Linked DNA regions of Homo sapiens: region 1 is linked to region 2. Evidence: fine-mapped expression QTL. A gene starts in region 2. The other region holds a variant in brackets. All regions are shown on one strand. Distances are from middle to middle.

Region 1 (5,373 bases), 84 kb before region 2:
AGAGTCTCACTCTGTCACCCAGGCTGGAGTGCAGTGGCATGATCTCGGCTCAATGCAACCTCCGCCTCCCGGATTCAAGCGATTCTCCTGCCTCAACCTCCTGAGTAGCTGGGACTACAGGTGCGCACCACCATGCCTAACTTTTGTATTTTTAGTAGAGATGGGGTTTTACCGTGTTGGCCAGGCTGGTCTTGAACGCCTGGCCTCAAGATCAATCTGCCTCGGCCTCCCAAAGTGCTGGGATTACAGGCGTGAGCCACTGGGCCCAACTCTCTGAATTTCTTAATCTATAAATAAAGATGTGAATGCCAGGTGTGTCATGAAGATGAAATAAGAGAGTACATATAAAGGCAGAGCATGGTGTACAAAGCCAAGTGTTCAGTAACAGTCAGTGACTTAGCAGCTTTTGACTGTCTCTTCATCTTGGTTTTTCTGTCACAGCCCAAGCCTAATCTGTCTTCTCCTTCTTCAAACATCTTCTGAATCCAAAATATCTAAGACAGGTCTCCTCAATCAACTTGGAAAGTTTATTTTGCCAAGTTTAAGAATGTGCCTGTGACACAGCCTCAGGAGGTCCTGAGGACATGTGCCCAAGGTGGTTTTATACATTTTAGGGAGACATGGTGGTGGGTGCGGGGGGGGGGGTTCCAGGTCATAGGGCGTAGATAAGTTTGCTTTGTTTTGCATCCTTGATCAGCCTTTCACTGAATACATAATTTAGTTTGGCTCAGTGAATCTGCATTTTTTTTCTTTTTTGAGACAGAGTCTTGCTCTGTTGCCCAGGCTAGAGTGTAGTGGAACCATCTTGGCTCACTGCAACCTCCGCCTCTAGGGTTCCAGTGATTCTTCTGCCTCAGCCTCCCAAATAGCTGGGACTATAGGTGTGCACTACCACACCCAGCTAATTTTTTATTTTTAGTATAGATGGGGTTTCGCTATGTTGACCAGGTTGATCTCGAACTTCTGACCTCAAGTGATCCACCAGCCTGGACCTCCTAAAGTGTTGGGGTTATGGGTGTGAGCCCAGCCAGAATCTGCATTTTTACATAAACAATAGGGCAGAGGAAGCAATCAGACATGTATTTGTCTCTGGTGAGCAGAGGGATGACTTTCTGTCCTGCACCTATGAAGATCAGCTGTCAGTTTATACTCCTAGGGTGAAATTCCACAGAGCTGTTTCAGGGTAAAGATCTTGAGGTCCACAAGGAGTTTCCTCGTGGGCAAATTGCGAGTGAGGTATGCAGCGTTTTTATCTTTGCAGCTATCTTATTTAGGAAAAAATGGGAGGCAGGTTTGCCTGAGGCCAGCTTGACTTTGCCCTTGGCTTAGTGATTTGGGGTCCCAAGATTTATTTTCCTTCCACAATCTCATCGTCATGTTTTTCAGGGCTTCCTTTTGGACCAACTCCCGTTGACTTTATGTGGGTCCTGTCATGCACTTCGTGAACCTTGGGAGCCAGTGCCACCCTTTCCAGAACATTCTGCCACCATGAGGAGCTGGTATTTGCTTGCTTTGGACTTCATGAAGTGGGGTTTGATCAAGAGCTTTTGAGGACGGGCTTTCAAGTGTTCTGTGCAGAATAACAGCGAAACTACACCTTCCTGGACTTCTGTCTTTAGAAGGCAGATTATCAGGTGTTTCTGGGTCTTTGGGAAACAAGCATGAAGGATTAGAAGCATTTGTCTCTCAGGCTCTCACCTGAGCCTTGTGAGGCCTTTGCCCTACCCATAAGCCTTAGCAGCTGTGGCCAGGACAAGGCGTAATCTTCTTCCCTATTAATCATCTCATTAGGCATCTCAGGGGTCACGCTGTTCCAGCTATTTTGCAACGATTTCCATTCAGCTCAACCAGTCACAAGGAATCAGCTTAGAAAATGGAAAAGCCTCGATGTTCCAGCCAGAGCCTCACCCTCATCCCCCTCCTTTTCTGCCCCCTCGAACCTGGTTTCCAGAAAGTGCTCTTCTGCTACACCCTGATGGGCTGTCCTCCCCTTGGTTTCCTGAGTGCTGTGGGGGATCATTAACTCCTCTGCAGCTACCGAAACTTATGAAACATTTCCTGCAACCGAATGCACCTTGGTTCCCTGCAGGACAGGCTGGAGCGGGAGTCTGTTTTAGAGGAGCAGGCACGTAGGAGCTGGAGGCCCCTCCCTCCTGAGGGCTGCCTGGGTAGTCCCAGGACCCGCCCTTGGTGCAGAGTCCTGCCTAGAGAAATTAATCTCTGGCTCCTGAGGCAGCTTCACTTTTTTTTTTTTTTTTTTTTTGGTGTTCCCTGTCCTGCTTCCCCAGAGGAAGCCAGAAGAAGACCCCAGTTGCCATGAACTCCGCCGTCACTAGCCGTGAGCACTCCACTTACTCGGTAAGGCCCGGTGGGAGACAGAGGGAGAGAAAGATGGGGAGCAGGAAGAAGGGCTGCGGGGAGGTCCTACTGCCCTGACTCCTTCTTAGTGCTAAGGCCTAGCCTCATGCTTTAGATCAGGGTTCAGATGATGAGACCCATGCAGCACTCCCTCCCCACCTCCAGCGTTAGTGCCCCTTAGTGTCACCTGTGGTCACCATCACAACAGACACAGAATCCGCCCCGAATAAACGGTAAATTACAAAGGAGGGGGGAAGATTTAGAAGATTGGATTTCCTGGTAATCCCAGCAACTGATCCCGTTTGCGACACCCTAATGCACAGGGTGGATCTGTTGAATCTGAAGGCCTGTTTTCCAGGTTGCATTTCAGTTTCTCTTTTCAGAAGCTTTCTCTGAATGGAAGCAAAGTGTGAGAGAGAAAGAAGTCACTTTTATTGAGCAGCCAGTATGCCCTAAGCACTTTCTGAACTTTATTTTCTTCCAAACAAGCCAATGGAAACAGGCACTTCTGTTCCCATTTTACAGATGAGAGACCTGAGGCCCAGAGAAGTCAAGTCACAGTGACTCATCTGATGATCTGTCTAGCTGGGCCCTGAGCCCTGGCCCCACCACCCCCTCCAACTTGTTTTGGCCACTTGAACATAACAGGGTGGACCCGGGCGGGAAGACCCTCTGTTCTTGCCAATACCCACTGCATGGGCCAGTTCTGTAGCCCTAATCAGGCCCAGGCCAGATGTCTGGGGACAGGGACCACCCACGATCCAGGCTGGGCTCTCAGGCTTCCCTGGAGCATGGCTGC[C/T]GGCCCCTGCCTGCTGCTGGTCAGCCTTCCAGCAAAGAGCCACATGCATTCTCTTCTGAGAAAGTGTGGGAGGCACCAAAGAACTCACGTCACTCAGCGGAGGTGCCACTAGCTCTCGGGAGCCAAAAACAACCCCTAAACAGCAACGACACAAAAACTTGGGAAATGAGTTGAAGATTCCATTTTCTGGAGACAGTTGTGTGTTCCTACATTTCTGGCTTCCCTGAGGCAAACTTGAGAGTGGGGGTTCTGGGCACCTATCCCTCTCCTTCTCAGTGGCCTTTCTTCCTGCTGTTTTTCTCACAGCCTCAGAGCAGCACCCAGATGACGAAGTCACCATTCTGAGATGCTGCTGGTTTTGGGGAGCACGTTGCTCTGCTGGAACTGGGTTATAAACTGGGGGAAGGCACCTTCCCGACCCTGAAAGCTTATGGCCCAGCTAGGCAAAAGCAGGAAGAGGCGGCATCTGAAAAATATCTCTGATACAAGGCAGAAAATGGCACATGATGCACCAGAGATAAAGGCCACAGGCAGGTGGGGAATCAGGAAAGGTGACGGGGGAGGAATTTGAGCTCTTCCAAGGAGGCCGCGAGTACAAGAAGCAGGTGGTGGAGATGGAGGGGGGCCCAGGGTGACAAAAGGCACTGAGGCAGGACCATGGAAGCCACATTGGGAGAAACCTGGACAAACCCACTGGGGAGAGCCAGGTGAACGGGAGTGTTAGGAAACGAGCCTAGGTCAGGTGAGCCTTGGAGGCTGGAAAGAAGGAAAGGCTGTATTGGGTATAGATGGTGTCAGAGGGGGAAAGGCATTCACCTTCCCCCAAGAAATCCCCAGCCTTGTCATTACTGCTCTCTGCACATCAGTGCCGCCTCCTGCTCTGCTAGTCTGTTCCCGGGAGCTGGAGGACTGTCTCTGTATGCCCAGGGCCACACCAGATGACAGACCTCAACTCTACTTGTCCCTATGTGGAACCTTCCTCCTCTGGTGGACCTCAGACAAGCCTTGTAACCTCAGGGAGCCTCAATCTCCTCATCTGTCAGAGGGAAGCAATAAGATGATGGTGAGTCTTCGATGAGATGTTTTCTTTTTTTCCCCCTGAGACAGAGTCTCACTCTGTCTCCCAGGTTGGAGTGCAGTGGTGCAATCTTGGCTCACTGCAACCTCTGCCTCCTGGGTTCAAGCAATTCTCCTGCATCAGCCTCCCAAGTAGCTGAGATTACAGGCCGGCACCACCACTCCAGGCTAATTTTTGTATTTTTAGTAGAGATGGGGTTTCACCATGTTGGCCAGGCTGGTCTCGAGCTCCTGACCACAAATGATCCACCTGCCTTGGCCTCCCAAAGTGCTGCGATTACAGGCATGAGCCACTGCGCCTGGCCTAAACGAGATGTATTGGAAACTCTTTGTAAACTGTAAAGTGCTATAAAATTCCAAACCTCAATCAGGATGCCTCTTTTGATCAAGTCTTATGGTAAAATTACAATCCATGCATTGAGTTGACAGACTCCTCCAACCAGAAGAGGAGGTTATGGCTCATATTCTCATACCATTCTCAATGTCGGGAAGTGCTTCATGAAGAATTCATTCTTCCTCCAAAAAGGGGCTTGCAAGCTTTCTTCTGCTGCTTTGAGTCACACACACAGACTCCTCCCAGCAAGGGATTCTGTGGAATTAAAAAGTACTTCATACGCACACACACACATACACGTGTGTGTGTGTGTGTGTATATGTATGTATATATATATATATGTGTGTATATATTTGATTTTTTTTTTTTTTTTTTTTTGGTAGAGACAGGGTTTCCCTATGTTGCCTAGGCTGGTCTCGAATTCCTGGGCTCAAAAGATCCTCCCACCTCGGCCTTTCAAAGCACTGAAATTATAGACGTGAGCCACCGTGCCTGGCCTACCCATATTCTCATATGCTCTGAGATGAGGCATCTCCTGCTCGCAACTGAGAAACCCGGCTCTAAGCTATCTCCGGGCTGTTCCTTGTTTCTGTGAATGTCTTTAAGCCCTTCCTCACCGACACACAGGACTCTTAGCATCCTGTGTCCCTGCTGTTCATTTCTATGCCCCCCTCTTTGCCTAGATGACTTGAGGAAGTTTACAACAAAAGGTATATTTATAAACAATTAGGTGAACAATACAGAGATAAACAATCAAGCACACAGAAAGGAGAGGAAAATGAGTATGTTCAGAGAAGGGCTGGTA
Region 2 (5,373 bases):
CTCAAGTAATCCTTCCACCACATCCTCCTGAGTAGCTAGGACTACAGACGTGCACCACTGGGCCTGGTTAATTTTTCTGTAGAGACAGGGTCTCACTATGTTGCCCGGGTTGGTCTTGAACTCCTAGGCTCAAATGATCCTCCTATCTTGGCCTCCCAAAGTGCTGGCTTTACAGGCATGAGCCACCATGTTTGGCCTTAATTTCTTTATCTGCATAAAGGAGGTAAAAATTCTTTAACTAGATTATAGTCTGAACGTTTTTATTTTTAAAAGGTCATGATCAGCTGGGCGCGGTGGCTCACACCTGTAATCCCAGCATGTTGGGGGGCCAAGGCGGGTGAATCACCTGAGGTAAGGAGTTCAAGACCAGCCTGGCCAACATGGTGAAACCCCGTCTCTTACTAAAAATAGAAAAATTAGCTGGCGTGGTGGCAAGCAACTGTAATCTCAGTTACTCAGGAAGCTGAGGCAGGAGAATCACTTGAACCCAGGAGTTGGAGGTTGCAGTGAGCTGAGATCGTGCCACTGGACTCCAACCTGGGCCACAAGAGTGAAACTCTGTCTTAAAAAAAAAAAAAAAGTCATGCTCATGATTCTATGAGTATCTGGAGCAATAAAAAAAAAAAAGCCACTCATAACCAATAGAAGTGGGGTATGGAGCACATAGCAGTATGAGAAGCTTCATCTTAAGGAATTTTGGAGACTTCCTTATGTTTATGAACAAATGTTTACTGAACACTCTCTCTGTGCAAAGCCCATTTATTCTGCAGGAAACTGGAGCCCAAAATAATACTAGGCCTTTCAGAATGGCCATAGCTCTAACATATTTTCCCCTTTAAAAAACGTATTGCTGCCCAGGCACAGTGGCTCTTGCCTGTAATCCTAGCACTTTGGGAGGCTGAGGCAGGAGGATCACTTGAGCTCAGGAGTTTGAGACCAGACTGGGCAACGTGGCCAAACCCCATTTCTACAAAAAATACAAAAATTATCTGGGCGTCATGTGCCTGTAGTCCCAGCCACCCAGGAGGCTGAGTTGGGAGGATCACTTGAGCCTAGGAAGCAGAGGTTGCAGTGAGCTGAGATCATGCTACTGCACTCCAGTCTGGGTGACAGAGTGAGATTCTGTCTAAAAGCAAACAAGTGAACAAAGAAAACCAAAACTTATTGCTGTGTTCGACCTTGTTCATGAGATCAGCTTGCCAAACATAACCTTTCAGTCTAACAAAGTTAGGAGGCAGCTTCGTTGATACCTTCTTCTAAAAGGGCATTTTGTGAGGATTAACACTGTCACATGACATATTTTTATTAATTGTCCTCTATAAAGCAGAGCATACTTTCATTACCACATATTTTCCTATTAAAACACTTTTTAATATCCACTCAGAGCTGACGTTTAAAAAACTCCCTAGACTAAACTTTAAAAAAAATGCCCTCACCTTCTCCAAATTTCAGAGAAATGTTCATTTTTAAGCATCAGTCCACAAAATATTTGAGTGTGATCCATTCTCATTAGCAAGCCCCAGACAGTATAATACACTGCATAATGTACTACAACCCACAGACAGCTTCCTTTGATTTTCTATCTATATCAAATTATGTAAAAATAATCCAGAATTGGCTGGGTGCCGTGGCTCCTGCCTGTAATCCCACACTTTGGGAAGCCGAGGTGGACGGATCACCTGAGGTCAGGAGTTCGAGACCAGCCCAGCCAACACGGTGAAACCCCTGTCTCTACTAGAAATACAAACAATTAGCCGGGCGTGGTGGCCCACACCTGTAGTTCCAGCTACTCGGGAAGCTGAGGCAGGAGAATCGCTTGAACCCGGGAGGCGGAGGTTGCAGTGAGCTGAGATCTCGCCATTGCACTCCAGCCTGGGTGACAAGAGCGAAACTCCGTCTCAAAATGATAATAATAATAATCATCATCATCATCATCATCATCATCCAGAATCACTCTCAAAAATGTAGGTAGCCACAGTGACGGATACAAAAGGCTCCTGTGAACCCCGCGCTAAAAGTTCACCTGTTAGGCTCCGCTGCACTGAATTCTTTCAAGTCTACACAAACACTCATATGCCCAAGGGCACCTTTCTGGAGAGGAGCGTTCAAAGGATACTTACTCGCCAACGGTGCACGCGACGTCCCCACTCCCGGGACAGCAGTCACCCGGCTTCGTGCGCCGGAGTGGGGATCGCGGTTCCTGTCTGGGTCAGAAAACAGACCTGGCACCTCGTTACAGGGGTGGGGACCAATCGCGGCCCTGTCCCTGGCCGCCACAGCCAATGGGGATGCGTGGTGACGGGCCAATGGGCGTGTGGGCAGTGGAAGAAACAGTGTTACAAGTTGTCCGAAGGCGACAGAAAAGGGAGGAGAGAGAAGAGGGAGGGGCGGGGCTGACTCACCTCGCAGGGTCGCGAGGGGTCAGGGAGGGGACCCTCGCGTCAGTAATCAGCTCGGGGGCTCCACACAGCCTTCATGTGTCCTCAGAGGACTAAGTAGATGCCCTCCAGCTGGTTCCACTCACCTGGCACTGGGCCCCAGTTTTCTCATCTCTCAAATGGGGCAATGCCACCAGCTTACAGGGTTGTCCTGAGGGTTACGGAAAACCCCTTAGATAAAGGAATCAAAATACCAGGCTCGCTGCCTCAAGCGAAAACATGAGAAAACGGCATGAAGGAAATAAACGCATAAAAGGGAGAAAGGGAAATAGCATTTTAAATAAGGCAGGAAGAAATAGAGGATGGGGGGAGAAAATGGGGTGGAGAGAAGGGACCTTTAATAGCTCAGATTAAAATATCAAGAATAAGAGAGAAAAGGGGTTCACTCTGGGTAGTAGGAAGTAGGTATTCTTTCAGTTTGGAAAAAAAATTCATTTTTCCTTCCCAAATATAGATGTACTCTCGTTTAGGCTTCTTTTTGCTTGTATGCTTATATCCTGCAATATTTCGTGATGCTCATGATCCCACTATATCTGGTTGACACTGGTGGGGGTACTAGCGAGGCCCTACACATTTGGTAGCAGATGCAGGACAAAGCCCCTTGAAGTGCCCGGCTCAGGGCCAGTGCACGGTGCAAGAAGCATGGCTCCGCCCAGGCGCCCCCTTGCTGCCATCTGATGGGTGAGCTCCTTCACTCCTGAGGCAGGGGTGAAACAGGGGTCACAGGCTTAGCAGGCGTAGCAGGGGATTCTGGATTAGAATCCACCTCGCAGGGACTGAGAGGACTATCAACGAGCCGCTACGGAAAGCACGCAGTAGGGTACCTGGGAGGCTTAGACACTCATGAAGTTTGACGTCAGTGAGATGATGTCCCACATATAAAGAAACCGTCACATAAAAACAGAAAAACCTTCCAGTAAGGGTCAATTCTCATTCTCCCCTTCTAGCATTTTTTTTTTCCTGAGACAGGTTCTCGTTCTGTCGCCCAGGTTGGAGTGCACTGCAGCCTCGAATTCCCGGGCTCAAGCGATTCTCCTGCCTCAGCCTCCTGAGTAGCCGGGACTACAGCCCCGCACCACCACACCATGCTAATTTTTAATTTTTTTGTAGAGACAGGCCTTTCTAGGAAAATTTAAAATGTTCATTTCACTCCAAAATTCTGCTTGGGTCGCTGCCCCATTTCTGGCTGTCACGCAGCCCTTGACCTAGGGTCGCTCAGGGCTTTAAGGAAATTGTCACCACCCCACTCCACCCCCACTCCCTGACTTTTCTCTCCTGGGCCTGCCCACACCTCCCACCACCAACCTCCCACCACCAGCCCTACCTGCCGTGTTGCTGGGGACCTAGGGGTTTGTGAAGCTCTGTCTTGGGGAGCCTTATCCTCGCACCAAGATGACACAGAGTGGTTTGGAAACTGACCTCTGACCTGCCTCAACCTTTCATGTAGTCACCCCACCTCCCGCCCCAACCACTGCCACACACACAAGCAGATGTGCACCCAGAAAAAATGTAGTCCTGGGGGGAAAGTTACTAAGAAGCTTATTTACCTGCCACAGCCTGATTTCTTGATTGAAAAAGAGGATCTTGTCCACATCAATCTTCCCCATAGCTGCAAGGCAGAAGGCTCTGCCATGAACACTGGGGGCCTCCTGGTGGCCTCTCACTAGCTCTGGATATGAAGAGTTATCCCTGGTAACACCCACACACACCACCACCCTCTGACCTTGACCCCTTCCTCCCAGTAGCAAAACTTTTGCCCTAAAATACACTCCCTCCCCACCACAGGAACATAGATCCTGTCCAGAAATGCCCTCCCCCTACAATAACATAGATCCTTCTCTGAAATATTCCTCCAGCAACATAGATTCTGCCCTGAAATTCCTCCAGCACAGTGGCATAGATCCTGTCTTGAAATACTCCACCCCAGCAGAGATCCTGCCGGGAAATATTCTCCTTCTCTCCCAGTTGGAGAACATGCCCTCCTTGCAGATCCAGCTCAACACCCAGGAAGCCTTCCAAGATCCCTGCATTCATACCAACTCGGGATGGCCACCCCTTTTTGCGCCCCTTGGCCTAACTTTCTGGTAGAAGGAATAACCCTCTGAATTTATTCTCCTTGTTAGTGTCCATCCATTTCATGAAATAAAAGGCCGGGACTTCAGGCTGTATTATCTTTTTATCCCCCAATTAAAATGAGAGTGATGGATCCTATACTGAGACTTTACTGTGCTCAGCATCCTCAGGGACAACTCTGTGAAGAGTCTTCTCCCCAGGCTCAGAGAGGGCCAGGGACTTGCTCAAGATCTTCTCTCTGGTCCTCTGCACTCCATGCCCCCTTGGGGGGCATTTGGTCCCTTAAATATCAACTACCTTAGGACAGAGAGATATATGCAAGATTTTGTAACTTTTAGAACAAAAAACCCTCAGCTTTGAGCTGAGGTCTGCAGATGGTGGCTCCCAGGAAAGAATGAAAAAGGCAGAGACACAATGGAGGGATGCACTCTCTGACTGCAGTCAGGGGCTCCCAGCACTTCTGCCAAGATGAGCCTGAGACACAATCCTAGATAGGCTTTTGCTCACCGTGTCCTTTGCATGGGGCTAGACATTGGCTTCCAAGGGACCCTGCAGATACAGTAAACTCCTTTATGGGGAGCATTGCTGGGTCAGTATGGCTGGGCACTTCCTGCTATAGGAGGGCAGATGTATGACCCCATCAAGACATGTCCCAGGGTGAGAGTCCCCACCCTCCCCAGACCTCCATAGTGAAAATTCCCAAAGACTCATACTGTCATCACAACTCAGCAGCAACTTCCAAGGGACTGCTTTTGGAGTTTCTATTTTAAGGGTTTAATGTATAAGTGAAAGTGCTTCAAAATGTAGAAAGAGCTGTAGAAATACTGATAAAGAAGGTTGAAACTTGTGAATAAAAGTACAT

Direction of the effects. Alleles are on the strand shown, and positions count from the first base shown. SD is a standard deviation of normalised expression in the study named.
With allele C in place of T in region 1, the expression in subcutaneous fat of the gene that starts at base 2,186 in region 2 is lower (small effect, 0.39 SD a copy in GTEx).

The links. PIP is the estimated chance that this variant, and not a neighbour inherited with it, causes the effect.
Region 1: its variant is the best candidate, but not a certain one, in a credible set for the expression of STRA8 in subcutaneous fat (GTEx, PIP 0.80).

The regions. Positions count from the first base shown.
Region 1 is chr7:135,314,625-135,319,997 of GRCh38, reverse strand. LOC107984123 (a long non-coding RNA gene) reads left to right here and starts at 2,265. Exons shown (of 6, transcript XR_007060540.1): 1 at 2,265-2,358. The variant C/T (reference allele first, on the strand shown) is at 3,158.
Region 2 is chr7:135,230,651-135,236,023 of GRCh38, reverse strand. It overlaps STRA8 (stimulated by retinoic acid 8), which reads right to left and starts at 2,186. Exons shown (of 9, transcript NM_001394401.1): 1 at 2,121-2,186.